Homo sapiens: one gene and its partner. The protein of the gene in region 1 purifies or fractionates together with the protein of each later gene. This does not show direct contact. Each region holds a gene or a part of one and is shown on either strand. Other genes may lie near its edges.

The links. The genes of interacting proteins can lie anywhere in the genome.
Region 2: the proteins of CHST6 (region 1) and GLB1L2 purify together in Homo sapiens (affinity purification with mass spectrometry; 2 studies listed by BioGRID and IntAct, with this or other methods). This does not show direct contact.

Annotation. Positions count from the first base shown.
Region 1 is NC_000016.10:75,485,300-75,488,945, forward strand, and holds part of CHST6 (carbohydrate sulfotransferase 6), read right to left. Parts: intron 1-3,646. UniProt on the Homo sapiens protein: Sulfotransferase that utilizes 3'-phospho-5'-adenylyl sulfate (PAPS) as sulfonate donor to catalyze the transfer of sulfate to position 6 of non-reducing N-acetylglucosamine (GlcNAc) residues of keratan.
Region 2 is NC_000011.10:134,338,376-134,342,021, reverse strand, and holds part of GLB1L2 (beta-galactosidase-1-like protein 2 isoform b precursor), read right to left. Parts: intron 1-3,646.

The DNA of each region.
Region 1 (3,646 bases):
AGGATAAAATATGCCTGGAGGCCAGGCACGGTGGCTCGTGCCTGTAATCCTAGCACTTTGGGAGGCCAAGGTGGGAGGATCTCTTGAGCCCAGGAGTTCAAGGTTGCAGTGAGTTATATCATTCTACTGCTCACCAGCTTGGGCAACAGAGTGTGACCCTCTTTCTTAAAAAAAATCAAAAACCTAAAACCAGAGCAAAACACTCCAGCTCACAGCTGAAGCTCACAGCTCACAGCTGAAGTACTGAGAGTACATTTCCTTTCTTGTTTTTTCTTGTTTCCCTTAGTTTTCCTTGGGGCTAATTGCATTAGATATTAGAAACGTTGAAAGAAAAATTTAAAAGATGTGAAAAGTAGAACAAAAAACATAAATGACAGATAAAGGTTGGAAAATAGAGAAGAGATAAGATCAGCAAAAGATTCATCCAGGAAAGCCAGTGCTCAGGATCCCGATCCTGGCAGAGCTGACAATCAAGTTGGGGACACTGAAGACACATCTGGCTATGTGACGGTCAAGGGACCTGATGGTGTCCCAGTGGATGGCCTGGACATCCAGCCGCGGGAGGGTCATGCTGGTCCTGGCTGCATCCTTATCTCCTGGATTCCAGCAAAGTCCCCACCTGGCCTCCCTTCAGTCCATCTTGTACAGTTGCCCCCAGAGGTGCCTACACCACACATCTGATCCTGTCATTCTCCTTTTCAGTAACCTTCAGCTTTCCAGCCTTATCTCCCATATCCCAGGCTTCAGATGGCCGGGAATAATCAGTGTTCATCAAACAAGCTCCATCTCTCCCAACTCCCTCACCCATGCTATGAGTGCGCAGCCCTGACTCCCACTGGGAGGCATTTCAGCCTCGCCTGCAGCCACCTCCTCTGTGCCTGTCAAGGCATGCCCCACTCTGCCCTGCATTGTACTTTGCTTTCCCTTCTTGCCTGTGAGCAACCCGGAACTTTGGATTGTGGTTTTTCGCAAGCGAACACCTGTTCTCCGGTGACTAGTGTGAGGATCAGCACTGCACAGGTGCACTGGACATGCTTGGTTCTGTCCACTCAGTACCCGTTTTTCCTTCTGATAACAGTCTCTAGGCTTTTCCCTGGGGAATCACCCTCACCCACTCAAAAGTGCATGTGGCTCAGATGGGGCTGATCCACCACTCCCGGCTCCTAAGGGTCATGTGTCCCAAGACAGACCCACCTCTATATTCCACACACTGACCCTGCCCCCCCAGCCCACACAGAACTATTGGCCTAGGAATGGGACATCTGCTCAACTGCAATTCTGGAGTTTTGTTGATCACAAGGGAAGAGGAAACTGCCTAGGTTTAAAATCAACAACAGAAGAGAACTCAGCAGAGAAAGTTCACAGGCAAGCTGACAGCACCATCTAAGCATTTGGATCCAGTTGTGCAAGGCTTACCCATGGACCCCTCAGCTGAGGGAAGCATTCACTTTCTGCTTAAGTCCTTGGGAGATGAGTTTCTGTCACTTACACCCAAGAGTGGTGATTAGATAGTGACAGTGAAACCCTTGGTGGGGTGAGGTGGGAAGGGTGCAGGGGCAGAGCTTCTGGGGGCTGGCCCTGCGTTGTTTCTCTCTGACAGTGCTAATTACATGGGTGTGTTCAGTTTGTGAAAGTTCACCAAGCTGTACTTTCATTATATGTACTCTGAAGAATGGCATACTTCAATAAAAAGTAAAGAATCCTGACTGAAGAAGATAGTAAGAGTCATGTCAAGGAATGTCCCAAACAACAAATGAGTAGAGGACATGAACAAATACTTGCCATTGCACTCAGATACTCTGTGGTCCACATCCAGAGGGAGGAATTCCCCAGTAGCCCACATGGCTTTCTGCCGAGCACCTTAAAGTCACAGGATCTTCTAAACATCCCTTACCATTTCTTGGCCTGGCCTGAGAGACCTAGGAAGGAGCTATGGTTCTGCCTGATTTGCAAATAGGAAAAGCAAGACATTGACCAAGGATGGTTTTCCATAGCAGGGTTGAGCTGGAGCCCAGGAGTCCTGGCTCTCTGGGCAGCACTCACTTCCAGCCAAGCTCTGCCTACCCTCGACACAGCAGCTCCAGGCCGGGAGTGGTGGCTCACACCTGTAATACCAGCATTTTGGGAGGCTGAGGCAGGTGGCTCACCTGAGGTCAGGAGTTTGGGACAAGCCTGACCAACACGGTGAAACCCCATCTCTACTAAAAATACAAAAATTTGGCCAGGCGTGGTGGCTCACGCCTGTAATCATAGCACTTGGGAGGCTGAGTAGGGTGGATCACAAGGTCAAGAGATCGACATCTTCTTGGCTAACACAGTGAAACCCTGTCTCTACTAAAAATACAAAAAATTAGCCGGGCGTGGTGGCGGGCACCTGTAGTCCCAGCTACTCAGGAGGCTGAGGTGGGAGAATGGCGTGAATCTGGGAGGCAGAGCTTGCAGTGAGCTGAGATCGTGCCACTGCACTCCAGCCTGGGTGACAGACAGAGTGAGACTCCGTCCCCCCTAAAAAAAAAAAAAAAAAAAAAAAGAGAAAAAATACAAAAATTAGCCAGGTGTGGTGGTGGGCACCTGTAATCCCAGCTACTCGGGAGGCGGAGTCAGGAGAATCGCTGGAACCCAGGAGGCAGAGGTTGCAGTGAGCTCAGATCATGCCACTGCACTCTAGCCTGGCAACAGAGTAACACTCCACCTCAAAAAACAAACAAACAAACAAAACCAAAACAACAACAAGACACAGCAGCTCTTCTTGTTACCAGCCTGTTCCAGCCCTGTTCATAGAATCTAAGGGAACAAAATGTAACACTAGGTATAGATCCCAGGTTTAGATTTCTCTGTTTAGAGTTGGCTGGAGGTCATCCCTGTTCGAGAATCCCAAAGCCACCTGGGCACGGTGGCTCATGTCTATAATCCCAGCACTTTGGGAGGCCGAGGCAGGTGGATCACCTGAGGTCAGGAGTTTGAGACCAGCCTGGCCAACATGGTGAAACCTCGTCTCTACTAAAAATACAAAAATTAGCCACCATGGTGGCAGGTGCCTATTTGTAACCCCAGCTACTCCAGAGGCTGAGGCAGGAGAATTGTTTGAGTCTGGGAGGTGGAGGTTGCAGTGAGCAGAGATCATGAGCCATTGCATTCCAGCCTGGGCAACAAGAGCAAAGCCCCGTCACAAGGAGAAAAAAAAAAAAAAAAGAATCCCAAAGGCTGGAAAAAACATACCCAATGAGGAGTCAGTGGCCTTGAGGCATCAAGAGCTACAACTGGGGCCAAACTGCTCTAGTGGAGCCCTGGGCATTTGGAAGGGGGAAGGCTAACAAGGAGCAAAAGAAAGAGGAAGAAAGAAGAGAGAAGAAAACAGAAAATGAGACAAAACATAAAGCAGGGAACATAAAACATAAAACAGGCCAGGTGCGGTGGCTCATGCCTGTAATCCCAGCACTTTGGGAGGCCAAGGTGGGTGGATCACATGAGGTCTGTAATGGGAGGCTGAGGCAGGAGAATCGCTTGAACCCGGGAGGTGGAGGTTGCAGTGAGCCTAGATCACGCCATTGCACTCCAGCCTGGGCAACAAGAGTGAAACTTCGTCTCAAAGAAAAACAAAACCAAAAACAAAACATAAAACATAAAGATGGAAGGTGAGTGTTCA
Region 2 (3,646 bases), on another chromosome or scaffold:
TCAGGAAAGCTGGAGGCATGAAACAAGGGCGTGGCTGAGTCCGGGGCAGGAGCCGGTGCTGGGTGGCTGAGTCCGGGGCAGGAGCCGGTGTGGGCTGTGCCTTCGTCCCCACCGGCGCTCGCTCCTGCCCTGACACTAGCAGGCGGTGGCCAGCCGGGCCCCACTGCACAAGACGCCCCTCAGCTGAGTGTCACAGAGGGAGGGAACAAGCGAGAGGGCCCAGATGGCCAGAGACGGGGAGGGGGCAGGGTGCCCACAGGGCAGAAGACAGCTCGGACATCGCCAGCCTCTTGGGAATTTTGTCTGGGGCCACTCTCAGGCAAAGAAATTTGCTTTTTTACCTACTCCTTCCTACTTCTCACAGCCCCAGGGCCTTAGAACTCACACCGAAGCTCCAGGACTATGGTTCTGCTGTGTTACAGATGAAAGGGTCATCTCATCTTGGGCAACCTGGGAATCTGTTCACCACATTTTTCTTTTTCTAAAGAGAAAACTTCCATGTTCTAGTAAATGGCTTGCAAATGACATTTTAGGACACAGTTCTTCCAAAGGACTGTATGAGACAGTGACAGCAAAAACGCTAGCTGGAATAGGAAGATCCGGATGTGAATCCTGGCCCCCAGCTTGGTAGAACTGTCGCCTTGGGTTAGTGACACCAGTTCTGTGGGCAGGAGCTTCTTCCTCTATAAAACGAGTCTAATGCCTCTCCCAACTGCTCAGAAAGGCTGCTGTGAGGGTCCCGGAGAAATGCAACACTCTCTGCTGTGAGTCGAAGGGTCTTATCTCTATCTGAAATCAATTTATTGTAGCATGTGTTTGCGTATTAGAGAGTTATGGGAACCTATTCACCACACTTTTTTCTCCAAAGAGAAAGCTTTAGAGAGAATAGCCACAAGTGGGTTTTATGTCCCTAATGTGGAATAATCCCAACTTCTCCATTCTCCCCATGGTGGTATATAGCTTATGTGCTAGACTTTGTGCCAAGCCATCTTATGACAATTTCTAAAATTTGACAATGAAAGATTCTGTACACTGAGATCCTATTAGACCAACACAGCCTGTAGGCCAGAGGTGGGCCAACTTGGGCCTCGGGTCAAATCCAGCCTGCCATCTGTCTTTGTGCAGCCTGCAAGCTGAGGATAGCTTTCACATTTTTAAGTGGTTGGAAAAAAATCAAAAGCATAATATTTTGGGACACATAAAAAATTATATGAACTTCAGTGTTCATAAATCATTGTATTGGCACACAGCCACACCATCTACGAATGGCTTTTTGCAGTTGAGTACTTGCGATAGACTGCGTGGCCTGCAAAGCTGAAAATATGTGCGATCTGCCCTCTCCCAGAAACTCTGCTGGCCCACATCCTTGCAGATGAAGCCCTGGAGTGCTAAGACAAGGCCTCGGCCCCTCTGGGCCACCGTCCGGGCCTTCTTTTGGTGCCCCCTGCTCTGCTCACCAGGCGCTTTGCTTTGGCTACAGGCTCACAACTGCTCAGGCCACACCTGCTCCAAAGCACACACCCTGCCACCTGCTCAGCCCTCCCTGCCTCAGGTACTCACCAGACTCACCTGCCCGCCGCAACACAGGTTCTCCCCCTGGTTCCCTCAGAGGCACATGCTGGGCTCACCCCAGGCCAGAATGAGGAAGAACTGGATGGACAGATTATTTTCTTAAAAACAGGGGCATTTTGACAACCTGGTGGTGAAAATACACACACACATGCACATGCACACACACACAAAATATCACTGTTTTTAAAGACAGTGACAATACAACTTAGCAATCATTCCACCAGGTACCAAACCTTATTCTCCAGCCAGAACTTCAAAAGCACAATCTCCAATTCTTATTAAAGCACACATTACTTATCCTAACATCTACTTATGGGTGCGAGAGCCTCCACTCCCCACCCTGCTAAATGCAGAGGTGTAGGCAGGGTTGGAGAAGCCTCTCTGACCGACATTCCAACACAGTCCCTGCTAGGAACCAACACCTTTAACCTCTCCCCTTGATTAGTTGATGACTAAGGATCAGGAAACCTCCCTCTAGGCTGACTTCTCCAGGTGTGGTCTATAGACAGCCACACCTCTGAACTCCCTCAGGGTCACAGCCGCCTGACTCAAAGTGCAGACACCTGGAAAGAGGCATCCCAATTCAACAACTTCTATCCACCAACCAGATTTCCAGGTCTTCATCCGCAGCTTGTCAGAAATGCATAAACCTTAAGCCTTACTTGAGACCTACTGAATCAAAATCTGCATTCTAACCAATCCCAAGGTTACAGCTCGAGAAGCCCAATCTGCGTCTTCTCCTTGGACACTACGTAGACTCCCTCCCTGGATAGAGCTTGTCTTTGCTAGTGTCTTTATAACACACCATTTTCTATATTTTTAGAATGAAACGTTCTTCTCAGTGCATAGCAAGAGGAATGAAATAAACAACAAGAATAAAAAACAATCTAGCTGTTATCCAATTCCAAATTCTGGTGAATTCAACTGTTTCTTCATGGGAATTTTCTGGTAGGTTACTAGAGAAGTTGTCAATACCTTATTAAAAGGGATGGATTCACCAAGAAAATGAGGATGATACGTGTTGGGTTTCTCCAAGGAATTCACTGCTAGTAAATGAGACCATGCGAGTTACAGCTTCATAAACAACGAAGCATCATGTAAATGGCTATTAACACTGATAATGATCATTAATACTAATAATCATAAGACGGAGAATAACCCCATAATTTCCTGAGTAACTCAGTAATAATAAAATAAAGGAAATATCAACAGTGTGGTTGGAGTTGGTTGGTTTAAAGGTCAGCAAGACTTTACTCCTAAATTAGGCTTGATACCAAGCAGCTAACCAAATCCTAAGGAAGCCCAGCGTGTTTCTGTCACTTTTCTTGGGGAGCAGTTCATCCACGATGGACCTTTATCTGATGAAACCAGGAACACCTGCCTTCTTTTGAACTGGAGCTTATGTTAACACTTTCTGCTAGGATTCCTGTTGCCTATGTATCTCGGCTTCATTTATCCAAAGCGATTTTTCCACCTTAGAAGAGTCCGGACAGCAAACCCTGAACTCAGTGCTCAGTGCCCAGGTCTGCTCTGCTCAGAGTCAGGCTCCGCTCCTCCACCTGGATGGAGAGGGTGGCCATGGTCATGGTCCAAGGTGGGGTTCCTGGAGGAAGGCAGGCACATCAGGACTTCTGATGGGGCCGCGCACAACCTAACAAGACCTCTACAGCCCATCCTCACCAGTTCCCTTTTGGCAAGTGGAAAAGGGGCATGCACTATTCGTGCTGAAGGCTGGGCAAGCTGCAGACACAAAAATTGGTTGCAATGGAAACCTGAAGCAGAGGACATAGGTACCAAGTTCTGCTGTGCCCCGTGGTGAGGAAGCAGGGGGAGGTGGAGCCCTCTGGAGTAATTTTTCCTTGACTGGTGAGGTGGGTCCTGAGGATGAAGGGTACAGGGCAGGCCCCAGCAGGCAGGAGATTCCAGGTGTAGTAAAAAGTGCTCCCGGATGTGAGTGGATGGAAAAGGGCAGATGAGCAGGTGGCAAGGTCACCACCTCTTTCTGGGAATGGGACTGGCTGTCAAGTTTCAGAGGGGATCTTGCAGGGCGGCTGGGTGGGAGGTGAGCCAGATC